Linked DNA regions of Homo sapiens: regions 1, 2, 3 and 5 are each linked to region 4. The links come from fine-mapping of genetic effects on gene expression. A gene starts in region 4. Each other region holds a variant in brackets. All regions are shown on one strand. Distances are from middle to middle. Region 1 overlaps LOC107985869 (a long non-coding RNA gene). Region 2 holds the start of LOC107985869 (a long non-coding RNA gene). Region 3 has its middle 49 kb from the start of CDC42EP3. Region 4 holds the start of CDC42EP3 (CDC42 effector protein 3). Region 5 overlaps LINC03063 (long intergenic non-protein coding RNA 3063).

The links. PIP is the estimated chance that this variant, and not a neighbour inherited with it, causes the effect. A credible set is the group of variants that fine-mapping cannot tell apart.
Region 1: its variant is the best candidate, but not a certain one, in a credible set for the expression of CDC42EP3 in whole blood (TOPMed, PIP 0.61).
Region 2: its variant is the best candidate, but not a certain one, in a credible set for the expression of CDC42EP3 in subcutaneous fat (TwinsUK, PIP 0.68).
Region 3: its variant is the best candidate, but not a certain one, in a credible set for the expression of CDC42EP3 in whole blood (INTERVAL, PIP 0.70).
Region 5: its variant is the best candidate, but not a certain one, in a credible set for the expression of CDC42EP3 in whole blood (INTERVAL, PIP 0.56).

What each region holds. Positions count from the first base shown.
Region 1 is chr2:37,760,778-37,764,900 of GRCh38, forward strand. All of the region lies in intron 2 of LOC107985869 (a long non-coding RNA gene), which reads left to right. Among named protein-coding and RNA genes, the nearest start is that of CDC42EP3, 91 kb to the left of the region's middle. The variant C/A (reference allele first, on the strand shown) is at 1,605.
Region 2 is chr2:37,742,446-37,746,568 of GRCh38, forward strand. It overlaps LOC107985869 (a long non-coding RNA gene), which reads left to right and starts at 984. Exons shown (of 3, transcript XR_001739409.2): 1 at 984-1,171; 2 at 2,007-2,052. The variant G/A (reference allele first, on the strand shown) is at 2,209.
Region 3 is chr2:37,620,650-37,624,772 of GRCh38, forward strand. No RefSeq gene overlaps it. Among named protein-coding and RNA genes, the nearest start is that of CDC42EP3, 49 kb to the right of the region's middle. The variant G/C (reference allele first, on the strand shown) is at 1,767.
Region 4 is chr2:37,669,349-37,673,471 of GRCh38, forward strand. It overlaps CDC42EP3 (CDC42 effector protein 3), which reads right to left and starts at 2,294. Exons shown (of 2, transcript NM_006449.5): 1 at 2,078-2,294. RefSeq lists silencers at 2,083-2,572, 2,743-2,802, 2,813-2,882, 3,103-3,272.
Region 5 is chr2:37,594,328-37,598,450 of GRCh38, forward strand. All of the region lies in intron 1 of LINC03063 (long intergenic non-protein coding RNA 3063), which reads left to right. Among named protein-coding and RNA genes, the nearest start is that of LINC03063, 34 kb to the left of the region's middle. The variant A/G (reference allele first, on the strand shown) is at 2,400.

The sequences.
Region 1 (4,123 bases), 91 kb after region 4:
GGCTGGGCGAGGTGACTAGCGCCTGTAATCCTAGCACTTTGAGAAGCCCAAGCAGGCAGATCACTTGAGGTCAGGGGTTCGAGACCAGCCTGGTGAATGTGGTGAAGCCCTGTCTCTACTAAAAATACAAAAATCAGCTGGGAGTGGTGGTGCGCACCTGTAATCCCAGCTGCTCGAGAGGCTGAGGAAGGACAATTGTTTGAACCCGGGAGGCAGGTGAAGGTTGCAGTGAGCTAAGATCGCACCACTGCACTCTAGCCTGGTGACAGGGTGAGACTCCGTCTCAAAAAAAAAAAAAAAAAAAAAAGGCCCAAACCCCTGCCTCTCAAAGATTTCCCAGTTCCCGATCCCATATATACAGTTTTGTCTCTTGAGGCTTTGACTGCAATGGGAAACCCAGACCCTTTTATAAGAACCACAGAAACCCCCTCCTAGGACTTGTGTGCATAGCAGATGAGCTGAAGATTTGGGGCTGAAGAGAGACCTGAGAGGAAAACAGCCAACCTGTACAGGAGGTACAGGGCTGACGGCTCCCATACAGCAGTGCTAGGAATTCTTTGGCTCTTTCTCAGGGCTAGCCTCTAACTTTCTGGCTCCCTCTCCTCTTCTTTTATTTCTCTCACCTTTTCCTTCCAATAACAAAACAACAACTTTTTCTCTTTTCTCCTGCCCCCATCTCTTTTGACATCACAAAATCTCAACCACCCCCAAAATATCTTTCAAAGTATTTTCTTGAACAAATACAGTGGCAACCCTCAACATAATTCTGGAGCCAGTTTTAGTAAAAGGTATTTTTCACATCTTTGCATTTCAATTGCAGGCAATTATATTGGCTTTTTTGGGTTATTGGAAGGATGACACAACTCTGTACTGGGCACCATGGATACAGTAGTGAATAAGACGGATAAAATCCCTGTCCTTGTGAAGCTTCATCCTACTAGAAGAGCTAGACTAAAAATAAATGCATAATATTATATTTGGTAGTAGTAAATACTATTCTCCAGAAAAATAAAATGTGGTAAGGAGATAGAGACAGGAGATGGACAAGCTTTAGTGGCATTACTGGCATACAGTAAATATTTGATTAACAGAGGTGAGGATAAGTGTGGTGACTGCAGTGGTAGTGGTTCTTATCAACCCACTACTTGTTTGAGGCCAGACAATTTTGCAGCTTAACTTAGAGGAGCTAAAGATATGAAGAACTAAGAAAGTTCTTGCCACAAAGAGGGAAACAGAATATTGCAGGTACACTGAAAGGCAAAATGAAACAAAACAAACACAAAATTCTGGAGACTGGAGGTAGGTCAAAGAGAATGGAGAAGAAAAGTGATAGATGCAAAGCTATGAAACAAAAATTTAAATAAGCTTTATAAGAATTCAGACCTAAGTCTGAAACCTGGTGGGTGAATGGCACTTACGATCTTTCCTGCACTGTGGAATACAAATTTGCAGAATGCAGTTGAAAGAGCACAAAATGACTTCTGGTTAAGGATCACGGTGTATAGGCATTAATTCTTACCCTCCCCTTCTTGAAAAATCTCAAACTAAAAACAGAAAAATATTTTAGTTGCCAATGAAATAAGGATACGACTGCAATCTTAAAC[C/A]ACAAACTATGTAGCAAACCTGCCAAATGCTGTGAAATCTGGACCAAAATGAGGAAGAACACTAAAAACTAACAACATATCCTCAGACCTTGGGCAAGAGGGACATTTCCCCAAAAGAAAGTGAGATTACCCTGAAATGCCATCCAGTGATTCTTCAAGGGAGGTAAGATCCAGGGGTACTGGGGCCATGGCAGAAGAGGACTCTTCCTTTAGGCTCAACTTGATACCACAGAACATGGCAGGCAGAAAAGCAGAGGAACCAGAGTGGTACCCGATTTTTATCCAATATTCATTCTCCTTGCTGTGGGAATGACCAAGGCAGAGAAAGTGGAGGAAAATTGCATTTTCCAAATTACCAACCTTTCCAATGACAAAAATTGCGGTGTGATATACAGTTCCAGAATAAGGAAAAGAGTAGATTTGGTGAGAGGCTATAGGAGGCAATATACTGTGTTCAAGTTTACTAACATCCCTCACTACTCCCCTTCCTCCATGGATGATTTTTCAGCAAGTATACAAGATGAATGACAATCTGAAAGAACCATCCCACAGACATGCTTTGAAATGAGAGAGAAAATAAAGAAGAAAGGAATGTAGGACAAAGATAAAGAACTACAAAAGAAATCATCTAAGAAAACAAAGAGTTTGGGTAGAGTTCCCCATAATCTCAAAGAAATTATAGGAGATAAGTGTAAATAAAAAATATTACAGAAAAAAAAAGCCATACTACAGCCAGGCGCAGTGGCTCATGCCTGTAATCCCAGCACTTTGGGAGGCCAAGGCGGGTGGATCACAAGATCTGGAGTTCGAGACCATCCTGACCAACATGGTGAAACGCCGTCTCTACTAAAAATACAAAAAATGAGCCGGGCATGGTGGCGTGTGCCTGTAGTCCCAGCTACTCGAGAGGCTGAGGCAGGTGAATTGCTTGAATCCAGGTGGCGGAGGTTACAGTGAGCCCAGATCGTGCCACTGCACTCCAGCCTGGCGACAGAGCAAGACTCCGTCAAAAAAAAAAAAAAAAAAGCCATACTACAAGCAACCGAAATTAGAATAAACCTAACTTAAAACAGACAGTACTTTTAATCATTCATTCATTCATTCGTTCATTCATTCATTTAACTAATTAGTGAATACCCCCTCCATGGCTGGAGTGCTTCTAGATGCTGGGAACTTAGCAGTGTCCAAGACAACATCTCTGCCTTCATGGAGCTTACAACCTAGGGTGGATGGGGGATAGTAAAAAGTAAAGAATAAATTTTGATAGTGCTATTAAAAAAAGTAAAACAGAACAACATAATAGAGTATGAAAGGTACTGGGTGACCATGAAAGTCTCTCTCACTGCAGGATATTTTATCTGAAACCTGTATAACATCATGAAAGATTCAGGCCTGCAAATATCTGGAGAGACATTCTATATACATATTATCATAAAAAAAAGATTATAAGGAAAAAGACATGAATGATAGGTAAGGAATATTCAACAAATATATAATTGGTGTTTGCAAAGAAGAAATGAACAAAAGAAACAGAAAATATGTTCAAGAAATAGGAAAAACAATCCCAGAACAAATGCTTAAATCTGCAGTGAGAGAATAATGCTCTAATGAAAACTTACTTGAGTGACCAATACCAGTACATAAAAATAATATGGATAACCAGCCCTGAATCTAGGCTGGTCTCATGGCTTGCTTTGACCCATAGCATGTGGTGAAAATTATTTCATGGCAGCCCTGAGCTTACAGCCCGAAGAGGCCTTGCATACTTTCACTCCCTTTCTCACAGCCCTGCTACCATTTTGTGAACAAGCCTGGGCCATCCTGCTGGAGTATGAGAGATCGCAGGGCCAAGTCACCCCCACTGTCCCTGCCAAGAGATAATCAACTACCACATGAGTGAGGTGATTCTAGGCCAGTCAAGCTCCAGTTGACCCATGTCCTAACTCATTCACCCAAGATCAGCCAAGCCATATCAGCAGGACCACCCCTACAGACCTGCAGGTCTGCAGCAATGATTAATGGTGTTTGTTTTCAGCCACAGTGTTTTGGGGGTGATTTATAAGTCAACACAAGCTAAGTATGATGAATGTCTAAATGTTTTTCACAATCTTTTTCTTGGCTTTAGAGAGATGTTAGAAAATAAAGTCTTCTGTGAAGAAAAATTTACCTGAAATCCAGCGTATCCAATTATATTTTAGTTTCTTTTTCTTCTGTTAAAGGAAACTTACATTTAATACCTTTTATTTAAAATCACATTTCATATGTCTAATGGCTGCTTTTATTATAAAAATGGATTCTATTTCATCAAAATTCTACCTTTTTATTTTCTAAACTGTATGGATGTATAAACAGATGTGCAGGACAATTTTTATCCAATGTTAATAGCTGCTCTTTCATTGGCAGCAAGAGTTTGTATAATTTTTCTGTTGCTCTTTGTAGTTTTCTGTGTGGCTTGAATTTATTGTAATGGGCATGTATCAACTTTGTAAAAACAGTTGAGTCATTCTTTTAAAAGAGCT
Region 2 (4,123 bases), 73 kb after region 4:
TGGTGAGCTCTGCCCTCCAAATGCTGGCTTATCCAGTCTTAAATCGCACTTCATGTGCTATCCCAACTGCACAGCTCCCATCCATATTAAGGGGCAAAAAAAGTGGCTCTAATTCTGCAAGGATATAGTCATCTTAAAAATACATTCCATTTATATTACAAAACAGAACTTAATAAAAGGTCTGCAGCATCTACATCCGGGTTTATAATAGCTTCAATTTTCTCCAAGAAAAATAAAAGCACGTGTTTTATATTTGTGAAATTAATGTGCCCTTTTTGGTCCTTTCCACCCAAATATAGAAAATCTGCTCCAAAAGTGAATTATATTATATCTAAAATTTCTAAAATAATGACAACAATAATAATAATGAAAAACAAAGTATCAGCTCTTTTGGATATTATAGTGAATAAGGAAAAGTTTTTTTAAATGCAAAAATAATATCAAACGTTCAAAACCTATTTGTATTTTGTGACAATATAATATAGCAGTGGAATCTATGAACCCTGATTCCAGGTCTAGAATCAGACTAGCTGGGATTTAAGATCCTGGCTCTCCTATTGGCTAGCTGGGCAAATGACCTGAACTCACTGTGTTTTCCTATCCTCATCTGTAAAATGGGGTTGACAGTACCTCCCTCATAGGGTTACTATGAAGATTTAAATATATAACAGCTTAAAATATTGCCCACTGTATAATAAGTACTCAGTACATGTGAACTGTGATGATCATAATGATGATGATAATGAAGACAGTGATGATGGTAGTGGCAGTGATGGTGGTGATGATGGCTGGGTATCTGAAGGCAGTTAAAAAAAATCCTAGAAAGAGTTCCAATTTGTGCTTCTCATTATCATCATTGGTAATGAACATGAATAGTGGACATTCTCTTACTCTTCAGTGCCCTTTTATCCCCAATGTGGCTTGTGCCATTTAAAGTACAATGAGGGACTCAGAAGAAGCTATGGTTGAGCCAATCGAATCTTTCTGACCCTTCTTACTTTTGTGGTGACAGTCACGTTATCAGGAACTCTAGTGAGCACAGTTCTTTGTGGTTCTTCATGCAGGTTTAGCAGGGCAGAGCAGTGTCAAGCTCCAGGTACGAGAGGAGAAGTCTGAGGAGGACCATCAGGCTGGGAGACTGCAGGGGACAGAAAGTTAGAGGGACTGTGAGGTGAGGGGGCCAGAGGGGAGGGTCTTCAGATCATAAGGTGAGCAGCTGAAGAACTTCCCCCTGAACTCTCAGAAGATAAATCCTCTTGCTATGGCTCCCCCAAACTCCCTGGCTGTATGGGGTAGGGTAGAAGTCCAGGCTCTGGGAGTCTGGCCTTGGCTGCGTCTTCAGCGGGCTGCGAAGCTGTTAATCTTCTTATTCATCTCTCTGGACACTGCTGGTGGGAAGTAGAGATGAGATTTCTTTTCTTGATCTCTGTCCCTTCTGCTTCCACTCCCCACCTTACCTCTAGGAATCTTTTCTGCTGTCAGCTCCCAGAAGCAGGAAAGGAATCCCCAAATCAGAACTTCTCCTTGGGCCCCCATGATGTCACAGCTCAGTGGACAAAAAAGATATTCGTGACAGGGTCACTAACCTGGTTACTCATTCAGTCAATGATATTTCATTAAGAAAGCTTAAAGTGGTTAACATCATGAGTCCCCAAAAGAGCAAACTTAAGTGATCCTAAAGCGTGTCACTATATTCATTTATAATTATGAAAACAAAATACTGTGGCCAAAAATGCTTTGCGATTTTGAAGTAAAAGATGCTGTCTAAGCATTTCTGAGTGCTCAAAATGTATCCTTTATGTTAAAGAAATATGAATTAAATATAAATGATAGTTTTATGACAGTAGAGCAAATGGATATGTTTTAAGAAGGAATGAATGACCAACATTTATTATTATTATTAGTTTAATGTTTGCATGATGGCTTGCATATTTTTGAAACAAGTTATTTAGTATAAACATTAGGCAGTTTATATTTACTGTATTTACTGTTTGCTTTATCAACAGGTAGAAGGTCTTGAGTTCGCTGACGTTACTCTCAAAATACTTTCAGGTAATTGTTGTCAAACAAGAGTTGACAATTTGCATTTTCTTGATTACTAATGGTGAGTATTTTTTCTTTTTATTTTATTTTATTTATTTATTTATTTATTTTTATTTTTAATTTTTTTTGAGATGGCGTCTCCCTCTGTCACCTAGGCTGGAGTGC[G/A]GTGGCATGATCTCAGCTCACTGCAACCTCTGTCTCCTGGGTTCAAGTGATTCTCCTGCCTCAGCCTCCTGAGTAGCTGGGATTACAGGTGCACACCACCATGCCTGGCTAATCTTTTGTATTTTTAGTAGAGACGAGGTTTCACCATGTTGGTCAGGCTGGTCTCGAACTCCTGACCTCGTGATCTACCCGCCTTGGCCTCCCAAAGTCCTGGGATTACAGGCGTGAGCCACCACGCCTGGCCATGATGAGTATTTTTTCTAAGTGAAATAAGCCAGGTGCAGAAAGACAAATATCATATGTTTCATTCATATGTGGGAGCTAAAGAAGTTGATCTCATAGAAGTAGAAAGTAAAATACAGGAGGCTGGGAAGGGTAGTGGGGAAGAGGGACAGGGAGAGGTTGATTAACAAATACAAAAATATAGTTAGATAGGAGGAATAACTTCTAGTATCCCATAGTATAGCAGGGTGACTATAATTAATAATTTACTGTGTATTTCAAAATAGCTGGAAGAGAGGATTTGGAGTGTTCCCAATACAAAGAAATGATAAGTGGTTGAGCTGATAGATATGACAATTACCCTGATTTGGTCATTACACATTATATGCATGTACTGAAATATTACATATGCCCTATAAATATGTACAATTATTATGTGTCAATTAAGAAAGAAAAAGAAAAAAAGGCTTATCTCCCAGTGATCACAGGGATGAGGAAAGAAAAACACAATTAAATTTAAAAAAAGAGAAAAAAGACTATGAAATTAACTTCTCAGCTCACATCTGTGTTGCATGATCATGAGATAGAAAACCATCTTCCCATCAGTGTTTTGGAGCACCCTAAGGCCCCCCCATAAAGTTCACAGGCCACCTCTCCCACCTTTCAGATACCCCACCTTGCCAGCCTTCAAGATTTCCCCCAAGCTCTGCAGGTTCTCATTGAAACACTCAAATACTTTATTATTTATTGGAAAAAAAGGAAAATATGAGACTGGCCTCACCATTGGCTTTCATTTTCCTCTTCCCTCTCCTCCCTACCTTCTGGGTTGTGGCAGCTGTAATTGGGTTAAACTTTGTGTAATTCCGAAGCTATGCTCATAGAAAAAAATAGTGAAATTCTCTAGCGCACCTACTAATGACCCAAGAAAAACTGGAAGCTACTATAGACTTTTTTTTTCTTTTTCTAGTTTCTGGAACTCGGGGCTGATTCTTTTGAGATGCATAATTTAGTTGGAGCCAATTGATGAAGGAGTCAGTTCTTATTTAAGGAAACTGCCTTCAAGCTCAAGTAGAAATCTTGAGACCCAGTATGAAATTTCCATTTTCACATAGCATACTATAAAAAATTGTCTGTTTTTAAAAATGAACTTATGTAAAGACAGTCAATCTATTCAGTTTATGGCTTTCTTTTTTTTTCTAACTTCAAACCAAAGGTGTTTTAATTCCCATAGAAAAGTATTAACAAACAATGGTGACTAACTTCATTCTTATAATTAGCCTTTTGTGGTTGCAAAATGTCTTCACATGCTTTGTTTTTTTACTTGGTCCCATGACAGTTCTTTAAGGTCACTGGGACCTGGACTCCCACTTCTATTTGATGCCTGAGGAAACTGACCATCCAAAGCAAAGTAGGCTACCCGAGATCATGTGGCTGTTAAGTGGTGGGTCTGGGATAGGGCTCATCTTTCAACCAAAAATAATTATTCTTAATTAATGGAGTACAATTTGCAGTGATTTGGTACTTGCTTTGTAGACATACAAAGTTTATAAAGTCTCAGAAATTTGAGGATGCAGTGGGAACTCACCTTTGGAATGGGGTGGAAATGGGCTGAGACCTCCACGAATAGGTGGCTGTTTACAAACTCAGACCCATAATGCTTCCTCCCCTGAAGAGGTTTCCTTTCCTGCTCCTA
Region 3 (4,123 bases), 49 kb before region 4:
TTTTCATTAAGTTATACAGCATCTCACTCTATAAGGCTGTGTAATGATGACAGTCATGGACCTGCTCACTCATGATCTGGGTGGTGAAGAGTTTTGGATTTAGAATTAGAAGAGGTAATTGGATTAGATTAGAGTCTCACCTGATGTTACTTAGCTGGGTGACTTGAAGCACATCACTAAAATTGTCTGAACCTCAATTTCATTATCCGTAAATTTGAAGGAGATATCATTTATTTATAGAGTTAAGACCAAAAATCGTAAGTGTAAAAGTTCTCTGAAGATGGTACAGTGCTCTACCATGATATACTATTTCTTAGGTACAAGCTATTATTTATTAGGCACAGCAACAGACTAGGAGCTAGGAGAAATTCAGAAGTCTTTTTTATAGCCTGCCTGACAACCTCTTTAATTATTTTCCATCTGCTCAAGAAGCTCCAAGCCCTGGCCACACTGAACTTTTTAATTTATCCTTTACACGATTTGCTCTCTCATATCTCTGTGCTCGTGCGTAACACCCCTCTCCTATGATCTCCTATGCATCTTTCAGAGGCTCTTTTCAGCTCTATTGGTAGTTTTCCTCTTCTAGGTGCCTATGCATTTTGTTCACAACTCTTATGGCATTTCCTACAGTGTGTTATAATTCATCTGTTTATATATATGCTTCTGCTCCTTCCTAAGCTATAAGCTTCTCAAGGAGACATGCTGCCATCTGTATTAAGTGTGCCTGGTACATAGTGGACATCCAAAGGCTTGCTCAATGAATGCATGACTAGAGGTGTAAGAATTACTGTCCTGATCCTCATACACATTACAACCTAATCGAGGATCATGACAAATAGACATGAAACACTAGCAAAATAAACAGGAAAAAGGATTCTGTGATGTAGGTGCAAACCCTTAGCATTGCATAAATTCAGAGGAGCAGGAGACCTTTGAAAGCTAAAGGAATCAGGGAAAGTTTCTGTATGTGGAATTGCTTAATGATAAGTGATGAATGGGGAAATCATTAAACCCACCAGAATTCCTTCAGGGAGAAAATCCTGTTAATTTGGAAGGTACGTAGATGCTAAATACTCAAGGGATCTGCTTCGGGGCAAAGCTGTACCATAAGAGGAAGAGCATTTAGCTATTGTTCTAAGAGATAAGGATGAGGAAAGGGAGAGTGGAGGTGGATTGAAGATGATGGCTGAAGACCACACACCCAGCAAATCTCAATGACATTGACTAAATCCTGAAGTGCTTGAACTGAATGGATTTTTTTAAAAAAGGAAACAATGAATGGACTCAAATTATCCATTCCTTGTGAATATAGGAACGTGGAAACAAAGAGGGAACCAAGGCACAGCTATTCAGAGAATACGAGATGGCCTTCTCAGGGTTCAAAGAGATAGATTTGGGGTTTGGGCCAGGTTTAACCAAATCTCTCAGGATTGCAGCTGAGGAGCAAAGAAAAGGGGAAGCTGATATCTGGATGACAATATCCAAATGAGTTGCATCTCCAAAGCAGAGAATTGGCCATGGGTCTTAAGGAATCATCCAAGTTAAAGCAAAATAATACTTCAGCCCTCTATATAAACATTCCTGTAGCCACTGCCCCCTAGACCTATAGTTTATAAATCTCAGTCTACCCAGTATGCTGATGGAGGAAAAGCTTTCACCTAAACACCGACCGTGTGAGTTGTTCATAATACTAAATTCATTTAACTTACAGAACTATATTTCAAAATGTTATTTTTCTGACATAATTGTTCGTTTTTAAATGAATT[G/C]ATGGCTTTTGATGTCTTTACGTGGCAAAATTAAAATGTGTCAACTTCGTGTTCATTTTCTAAATTTCTTAGAGATTTTATTGGTCTATAAAATCCAAAATTTGAAGAACCACCTCTTTTAATATGACCCATAGTATCATTTCAGTTAGCTAATTTGCTCTGAATTAAATGGCAGATTTATTTTCAGTTCCTGAATTCATTACTGGTGGTCATGGTTGGTGTGGTTTATTAAGGCAATTCCTTTTCGAGTCACATCATTCGTAGCCTCTTCAAATTAAAATTTGTGAACAGGTATACTGCCACAGGTACCCTGAAGGCTGTCTGCATATGAACAGGGTTTGGTTTTGTAGTCAATATGCCATTCAACAAGATGAACCCCACAGTTAGTAAAAACAATAGCTTGCATTGTATTATTACAAAGCAGTGTTTGTGTAATGATTACATATTTTCACTTACATAATTATGAAATGTACAAGTGTGACTGCTGCACAGTAATTAGTCACAAATGGCACACATTTCATGTAAATGGCTGCAATTCCTGTGACTCTTCCTATTGGGGCTAGCTTCATGAGCGTGTGACCTATCTAGTCCCACAGGGTCCCCTTGCTCAAGAGGGCCCCATGTTTGGTTTAATGTGCTGTGGCTGCTGTCTTGAAATTGTTCATAATTTTTGACAAGGGGACCCACCCCACATTTCCCCTTTACACTGAGCCCTCCAAATTACATGGCCATATCCAACTGCTATTGCAAAGATTCAAGCTGGGCTGGGAGGTAGAAATAGAAGGACCAGGTAGAGAGGCAGGGAGCAAGACTGAATCCTTTTAGTCATCTCAGGAGCCTCTGCCTCCAATCCAACAAGAAGGGCTTCTCCTGTTACTTAGAAAGTCTTGGCTCTTTTATTCAACTGGAACAAGGAAGAAGAATTAGCTTTTCAGAAAATAAAAAGTTTTGGTTAGGTCACAGTAAGGGGGAGCTGGGGAGATGCTATGGTTTTGATATGTCCCCAGATTTCATGTGTTGGAAACTTAATCTCCAAATTTGTATGTTGATTGGAGATGGGGCCTTTTGGAAGTAATTAGGATTAGATAAGGTCATCAGGGTTGGAGTCCCCATGATGGGACTGGTAGCTTAATAGGAAGAGGAAGAGAGATCTGAGCTGGCATGCTCTTGCCCTCTCACCATGTAATGGTGAGAAATCAATGTCTTTTCTTTATAAATTACTCAGTCTGTGGTATTTTGTTATAGCAACAGAACATGAACTAAGACAGATAATTGATACTGAGGAGATGGGCTATTGCTAGTAAGAAATACCTGAAAATGTGGAAGCAGCTTTGGAAGTGGGTAATACATAGAGGCTAGGCTCTGAGAATAACTCACAGTGGTCAAGTGGCCTAGGAGGTGCCTTCAGGGAGACCAGAAGCACTTGATGGGATAAATAGTGGTCATAAGATAGGCAGTGTAAACTACCTCACTCTTCCCCACTCTTCCGTAGCATCTGCTGTGAAGATACTGTTTCTTATGGTTTTGTTAGTGGATTTCTTTGTGGAGCTCAAAGTTCTGAACCCAGGTTGATTCAACGTGAAAATAAACATTGATCGTGCAGGCTCAAGGAGCCAGAAGACAGGGGTCGGGGGATGGAAGGCGGGACAGTGGGCAATTGGGCTCAGAGTGATGTGTCCTCAGTGAGAATTCCAGTTTTGCCATAATCTTCCCTGTGAAGTTCTGAGAATGAGTGTACAATGCCATAATGTCCTGGACTATGGTGGGGATGGTGGGTGTTCCCCACACTTGAGCAGAACGAAGCCTGTGTAAGCTGTGAAACTGTCAGCTTTGGAGATTAGTCATCCTTGCTCAGACCCTATAAAGCTTTTGCATTAGTTAGGCTGATGTTTCACTTTTAACTCATATAATAGGCTTCAGACACTTGGAAATAGTGCTTTTATCATTAGGTATGTTGCCATTTTTATTTTTTCAAGTTTCTCGCTCTCTCTCTCACCACATAAGTACACTTAAAGCTTTACCCTTGCTATGAGGTTAACCTAAGGCAGAGGGTATGTTGCCAGCTATAGGCCAAAAGTCTGGGTAGGCATGCGAGAAAGAAATATTTTGGTAGCAATATAGCTTAGGAAGTCAATATTTTTTAACATAAGTGACAGCAAATATTTACAAATTCAGGCTACTGTGGGTGTTCAGATTCTGAGTGAAAAGCAATCTCATGCACTGATATTTACTTTGAATATGTTCTCCTTTTTTCAGCACCCATGACTAATTCCCCTTTTCACAGGGTGAAGAGCAAGTTGGCTCTTGATCTAGCCAGAAAAAAAAAAAAAGGTTTTCTTATACTTCTGGTAGTAGGC
Region 4 (4,123 bases):
TTGGACATAAAACAAAACACCACATTAAAGGAAAGGCTGGAGCGCAGACAGGGCAAATGAACTCATGTGAGCCCTTCTGCAATCACTGTTACGGCTTTGTATTTATTCATCTTGCACCGCACTTAAATGTGCAATAAAAAGCAAAAAGTGTGCAACACTTATTACTCTAGCTGCTTTTACTTGTTCCATAGAGATACGTGAAACAATTTCACTGCTCAGATTGAGGGAAAGAGGAGCTCATCTCATTTCAAGCCTGTAGCTGCTGCCACAGCCTCAGCACCATGTTCTAATCATAGAATTCATCATGTAAATCTCTAGCAGATGATGCCATTGGAAAACAGAAACTGCCATGGATCCAGAAATGCTTCCAAATTTCTCCTCTAAAGTTCTTATCTGTGAGCCCAGAGGCTGGTGCTGTTTTATTCAAATGGGTGAGGCCCATTGGGAAACCCGCATTCTTTGGGAGACTTTATGAAGAATTTCAACCATTCCTTGACTATAGAAAGGGCCTTTATCATTTATTTCACATATGAAAATGCTAAATATTTCACAACTACTCCAACTTATTTCTGAGTGTCTAAATCTATTCTGAAAAGGGTATGCATCACACACATACCTGTGTAGCTTATTAACTACCAATAAGAGCTCACACAAATTGCAGGGGGTATGAAAGAGTAGACTTCTGGAACTGTCCAGAAAAGAAGAGAAGGTACATTTCCTGGTTTTAAGATGAAAGAGCTTGTGTAAATTAGAACATTACAGGAGCCTTTTAAATTGTCTTAGGGATACCTTTGGGGCATCATCGCTGGTTCCTGGTGAGTCTTTTTTCTCCCTGTGATGTTAACAGGAAGTCCCTAAAACTGGCTTTGCTATTAAAATACAGACATCTGCTGCTCTCCTAATTTTTGTTCCTTTTAAAAGGCAGTACTCCCAAGAAACTCTTGGATATTGTGAGAATTAAGAGCTGGGAGATGGGGATGGAATCTTTGTCTCCCTAACACATTCATCAGTTCCCTCCCTAGAGCCCCCCTACAACCTCAGCACACAGCAGCAGCCCACTCCTCCAAATACGCCAGGGCTGGAAAGATTCATGTTGCAATACCCTCCTGACATTCCTCATTTTAATTCGCTCACTTTTTTTTTTTTTTTTTTTAAACAAAATGTAATTACTTGACTGTCAGCCTAGGCTGCACTCTGGGGCTTTTACTCCTTTCAACACAGCTGCGCTCCCGGCTTTGATGCTGCTGTCCACGCAGCTTGTCCCAGCCACAGCCTGGCTCTCAGTAATGTAACATTCAAGTGCATATTTATTTTTAAACTGACCTCTCCTAGACTGCACAGTATAAAGGAGATCCTGCCCAAAAATATGCTACTTTCTATTTATAAGATGAAACACATGCCTCCCAAAGTCGAGAGAGGGATAGAGTATAATAATTCATAACGAAAAAATGGCCAGATCCATTCATCCTCACATGTCTGATACTTGTCTGTGTCAAGCCACTTAGTTTCAAGGAGAAAGGGAAGAAAACAAAAAACAAAAAACCTTGTAAACGTCTCAGCTGTTCACCGTCAAAAAACAAAAAAGTCAATATCCAGATCTGCAGGTTGGCGCCCCACTAACAATGTCCTCCATTAAGAAAGAGGAGGGCACCGGGCAGGCGATGCCACGGCAGAGCTGTGCGATGCACCCATGTGCGGCCCTGGTACCAATCCATGATGCGAGGGGCGCGGTAGCCAAGCGCGGCTTGTTCTCAGATGGAAAAATGCTATACGCGCCCAGAATGGCTCTGCCAATAGCTCGGAGGGTGCAATGTGGCCGCGCAGCCCCACCCTGAAAAGTAGTGGGCACAAATGGTGGAGCTCTGAGTCCTGGTCGTGCCGCCGGACCCCCTCCTGGCTTGCTTTATGTCCCCTTCGTTCCGTTGGACACTAGATGGGAAAGCGATGCCCTGGGTATCCCGACTCCCTGCTGGTTTCCCAGCCTAACACCAGCGCACGCCGGAAGCGGCCACGGCCGCGGGCGGGACAGACTCACAGACAGGTAGAGAGGAAGGAGCCCTGGGCTGCCCCGACTCACCGGCCGCCGCTGAGGATCCCAGCCGCTGCCCCGGGCCTCCCGCGGGCGCACGCAATCCCTGCCGCTGTGCGCAGATCCAGCCGAGTCTGCCGGCGTGGTGCCTGCTCACCGCATTATCCGCTCCGAGACGGCGTGAAGGCGCCCCAGGCCGGTGGCCGGGTCTCCGGGCTAGCCCCGCGCTGCGGTCCCCCGGCCGCGAGAGAAGGTGCGCGCGACTGAGCGCGGGGCGGCCGGACGCGAGGACTGAACCTGCGGAGGGCGGGGCGGCGCGGGGCGGGGCCGGCGGCGCGGGGACTCACTGGGGCGGGGCGGAGGGCGCGGGCAGCGGGGCCGACCCTCCCAGCCGCGGTACCTGTGCCCTGGCCCGGGGCCAACCGGTGGCCGGGCGCGCGCGCGGGGGGGGGTCACCGTTGGACCCTCGGAGGACAATGGGCGCCCATTGTTACCTCCCCAGCGCCACCCCCCAGTAGGCGACTTCTCTCGGAGAAGATGCCGCTTTCGACTCCCTAAGCACAAAGAAAGGTCGCCGGACGCTCGGTTTAAAGAGGGACCCGGAGGTGCTGCCGCCCGGGTGCACGGGGACAATAGGACTCCGCCCGCACCCCGGACTCCCGCACTAAAACTCGTGCGCCCACCTCTCCCGATCCCAACAGGCCGACCTAGCTGTGCGAGTGGCGGGCGGTGACCCGCAGGGAAGCGAGGCCACCTGAGTGCGCCGCCCCGGCCAGGCCGCAGCTCCCCAGGTCCCTCTCAGCCCGGGCTCCGGTGGGCGCGGAGGGGGAGGGTCGCGTTCTGTCAGTTTCTAGCTCGCTCCCCTCAGAGCTGCAGCCAAAACCCGGAGAGTGGAATAAGCGCCCTGAAGATGCCGGAGCTCCCGGCTGAGCAACTGGACACGCGACGAACAGCAGACGCTACAGGTTCTCCTACCCAGAGGGAGGCGTTTCTTCTCCCTCAGGGTCTTTCAAAAGGATTTGCCTAAAGCTGGGGCAAGCCGGTGGCGGCTGCCCCAGACGCGCGACGAGGCGCAAGTGGCGCAGCTGCCGGCCCGAGAGAGTAAAATTCAGGCCGCGGTGGCACCTGCGCCCGCCGGTCACCCGGCCACCGCCAGCGCCGCCGCCCGGCGCGCCCCTCCCCTCCGCCGGGGCCGGAGCGTGAACCGGGTTAATGAATGCTAATTTTCTTAATCGGCCTCCGTCTCTTCCTCCTCCGCGAGTCGTCGGCCTGGGGAAGGAGTAGGCGACAGGAAAGGGCGGTGTTTTCCGGCTGGGAGGTCCCAGCCCGCATGGTCAGCCAGGGGAGGGGGCTGGGACCCCTGGGAGTCGGACGCTGGGGGCCTGGCCTCTGCCCTGAGACTCTCGGGTTGGATGGAAATCCTGGCACAACGCGGAGAACCTCCCGGATACCTTGGCTTTGCCGAGAGATATCAGCTTCAGGTCATCACCGCGGTGCCCTGGGTCTGTCTGAAACCTTAGAGGGTGCGCCTTAAGCCGATGTTGTAAACCCAGGCTGACTTTAAGGTGAAGTGAAAAGGAAACGCACACAATCTGGAAAGCAAAATACTTGGGTGGGGTGTTAAAAGCCTCAAAGAAAAATAGTAGTTGGCAGGTCAAATGGCCATGAGGTTGGAAGTCAAATACGAAACTCGGCTGAAGTGATGTTAGAAGTTTGACAAGCAAAAACAGTCCGTGAAGATAAGAGACCCAGCATTGTTTCCCTTCTTCAAAAGACAACTCGTCCAAAGTTTCCTTTGGCAGATACCTGGATTCTACTCCAGATTCCTGAGCATTTTACTTGGGTTTCATATTTCAAAATATATGTTCCATTTGGCACTAATGTATATATTTTATATATTAATTTATTGAAAAATATTAAATGTTCCTGGCCTACTTAGAAAAAGGTATTTTTATAAATATTTATGCATAGTTTTCATTACATAGGGTATTTTATAAGTCCAAATAATATGTGTATATATATAAAATACCACATGCAAAATTCCTTTTGAACACATAAAGACATTCCCGACACACATGTCTTGTATGTAATTTT
Region 5 (4,123 bases), 75 kb before region 4:
GCTATCCCTCCCCCAGCCCCCTACCCCCAACAGGTCCCAGTGTGCGATGTTCCCCACCCTGTGTCCAAGTGTTCTCATTGTTCAGTTCCCACCTAAGAGTGAGAACATGTGGTGTTTGGTTTTCTGTCTTTGTGATAGTTTGCTGAGAATGATGGTTTCCAGCTTCATCTATGTCCCTGCAAAAGACATGAACTCATCCTTTTTTATGGTTGCATAGTATTCCATGGTGTATATGTGCCATATTTTCTTAATCCAGTCTATCATTGCTGGATATTTGGATTGGTTCCAAGTCTTTGCTATTGTGAAATAGTGCCACAATAAACATACATGTGCATGTGTCTTTATAGTAGTATGATTTACAATCCTCTGGGTATATACCCAGTCATGGGATTGCTAGGCCAAATGATATTTCTAGTTCTAGATATTGAGGAATCGCCACACTATCTTCCAGAATGGTTGAACTAATTTATACTCCCACCAACAGTGTAAAAGCATTCCTATTTCTCCATATCCTCTCCAGCATCTGTTGTTTGCTGATTTTTTAATGATCGCCATTCTAACTGGCGTGAGATGGTATCTCATTGTGGTTTTGATTTGCATTTCTCTGATGACCACTGATGATGAGCATTTTTTCATGTGTCTGTTGGCTGCATAGATATCTTCTTTTGAGAAGCGTTTGTTCATATCCTTTGCCCACTTTTTGTTAGGGTTGTTTTTTTCTTGTAAATTTGTTTGAGTTCACTGTAGATTATGGATATTAGCCCTTTGTCAGATGGGTAGATTGTAAAAATTTTCTCCCATTCTGTAGGTTGCCTGTTCACTCTGATAGTAGTTTCTTTTGCTATGCAGAAGCTTTTTAGTCTAATTAGATCCCATTTGTCAATTTTGGCTTTTGTTGCCATTGCTTTTGGTGTTTTAGTCATGAAGTCCTTGCCCATGCCTATGTCCTAAATGTATCTCCTAGGTTTTCTTCTAGGGTGGTTTTAGGTCTAACATTTAAGTCTTTAATCCATCTTGAATTAATTCTAGTATAAGGTGTAAGGAAGGGATCCAGTTTCAGCTTTCTACATATGGCTAGCCAGTTTTCCCAGCACCATTTGTTAAATAGGGAACCCTTTCCCCATTGCTTGTTTTTGTCAAAGATCATCTGTAGATGTGTGGTGTTATTTCTGAGGGCTCTGTTCTGTTCCATTGGTCTACATATCTGTTTTGGTAGCAGTACCATGCTGTTTTGGTTACTGTAACCTTGTAGTATAGTTTGAAGTCAGGTAGCATGATGTCTCCAGCTTTGTTCTATTGGCTTGGGATTGTCTTGGCAATGCAGGCTCTTTTTTGGTTTTACATGAACTTTAAAGTAGTTTTTTCCAATTCTGTGAAGAAAGTCATTGGTAGCTTGATGGGGATGACATTGAATCTATAAATTACCTTGGGCAGTATGGCCATTTTCACTATATTGATTCTTCCTATCCATGAGCATGGAATGTTCTTTCATTTGTTTGTGTCCTCTTTTATTTCATTGAGCGGTGGTTTGTAGTTCTTGAAGAGGTCCTTCACATCCCTTATAAGTTGGATTCCTAGGTATTTTATTCTCTTTGTAGCAATTGTGAATGAGAGTTCACTCATGATTTGGCTCTCTGCTTGTCTGTTATTGGTGTATAGGAATGCTTGTGATTTTTGCACATTGATTTTGTATCCTGAGACTTTGCTGAAGTTGCTTATCAGCTTAAGGAGATTTTGGGCTGAGATGATGGGGTTTTTAAAATATACAATCATGTCATCTGCAAACAGGGGCAATTTGACTTCCTCTTTTCCTAATTGAATACCCTTTATTTCTTTCTCTTGCCTGATTGCCGTGGCCAGAACTTCCAACACTATGTTGAGTAGGAGTGGTGAGAGAGGGCATCCTTGTCTTGTGCCAGTTTTCAGAGGGAATGCTTCCAGTTTTTGCCCATTCAGTATAATATTGGCTGGGGGTTTGTCATAAATAGCTCTTATTATTTTGAGAAATGTTCCATCAATACCTAGTTTACTGAGAGTTTTTAGCATGAAGATCTGTTGAATTTTGTTGAAGGCCTTTTCTGCATCTATTGAGATAATCATATGGTTTTTGTCATTGGTTCTGTTTATGTGATGGATTACGTTTATTGATTTGCGTATGTTGAACCAGCCTTGCATCCCAGGGATGAAGCCGACTTCATCGTGGTGGATAAGCTTTTTGATCTGCTGCTGAATTTGGTTTGCCAGTATTTTATGGAGGATTTTTGCATTGATGTTCATCAGGGATATTGGTCTAAAATTCTCTTTTTTTGTTGTGTCTCTGCCAGGCTTTGGTATCAGGATGATGCTGGCCTCATAAAATGAGTTAGGGAGGATTCCCTCTTTTTCTGTTGATTGGAATA[A/G]TTTCAGAAGGAATGGTACCAACTCTTCTTTGTACCTCTGGTAGAATTCAGCTCTGAATCCATCTGGTCGTGGACTTTTTTTGATTGGTAGGCTATAATTATTGCCTCAATTTCAGAGCCTATTATTGGTCTATTCAGAGATTCAACTTCTTCCTGGTTTAGTCTTGGGAGGGTGTATGTGTCCAGGAATTTATCCATTTCTTCTAAATTTTCTAGTTTATTTGCATAGAGGTGATTATAGTATTCTCTGATGGTAGTTTGTATTTCTGTGGGATCGGTGGTGATATCCCTTTTATCATTTTTTATTACATCTATTTGATTCTTCTGTCTTTTATTCTTTATTATTCTTCCTAGAAGTCTATTAATTTTGTTGACCTTTTCAAAAAACCAGCTCCTGGATTCATTGAATTTTTGAAGGGTTTTTTGTGTCTCTATCTGTTTCAGTTCTGCTCTGATCTTAGTTATTTCTTGCCTTCTGGTAGCTTTTGAATTTGTTTGCTTTTGCTTCTCTAGTTCTTTTAATTGTGATGTTAGGGTGTGGATTTTAGATCTTTCCTGCTTTCTCTTGTGGGCATTTAGTGTATAAATTTCCCTCTACACATTGCTTTAAATATGTCCCAGATTCTGGTATGTTGTATTTTTGTTCTCATTGGTTTCAGAGAACATCTTTATTTCTGCCTTCATTTCGTTATTTACCCAGTAGTCATTCAGGAGCAGGTTGTTCAGTTTCCATGTAGTTGTGCAGTTTTGAGTGAGTTTCTTAATTCTGAGTTCTAATTTGATTGCAGTGTGGTCTGAGAGACAGTTTGTTGTGATTTCTGTTCTTTTACATTTGCTGAGGAGTCTTTTACTTCCAATTATGTGGTCAATTTTAGAATAAGTGTGATGTGGTGCTGAGAAGAATGTATATTCTGTTGATTTGGGGTGGAGAGTTCTGTAGATATCTATTAAGTCTGCTTGGTGTAGAGCTGAGTTCAGTTCCTGGATATCCTTTTTAACCTTCGGCCTCATTGATCTGTCTAATATTGACAGTGGGGTGTTGAAGTCTCCCATTATTATTGTGTGGGAGTCTAAGTCTCTTTGTAGGTCTTTAAGGACTTGCTTTATGAATCTGGGTGCTCCTGTATTGGGTGCATATATATTTAGGATAGTTAGTTCTTCTTGTGGAATTGATCCGTTTACCATTATGTAATGGCCTTCTTTGTCTCTTTTGATCTTTGTTGGTTTAAAGTCTGTTTTATCAGAGACTAGGATTGCAACCCCTGCTTTTTTTCTTTGCTTTCCATTTGCTTGGTAGATCTTCCTCCATCCCTTTATTTTGAGCCTATATGCATCTCTGCACATGAGATGGGTCTCCTGAATACAGCATACTGATGTGTCTTGACTCTTTATCCAATTTGCCAGTCTGTGTCTTTAACTGGGGCATTTATCCCATTTACATTTAAGGTTAATATTGTTATGTGTGAATTTGATCCTGTCATTATGATGTTTGCTGGTTATTTTGCCCATTAATTGATGCAGTTTCTTTATAGCATTGATGGTCTTTACAATTTGGCATGTTTTTGCAGTGGCTGGTACCGGTTGTTCCTTTCCATGTTTAGTGCTTCCTTCAGGAGCTCTTGTAAGGCAAGCCTGGTGGTGACAAAATCTCTCAGCATTTGCTTGTCTGTAAAGGATTTTATTTCTCCTTCACTTATGAAGCTTAGTTTGGCTGGATATGAAAT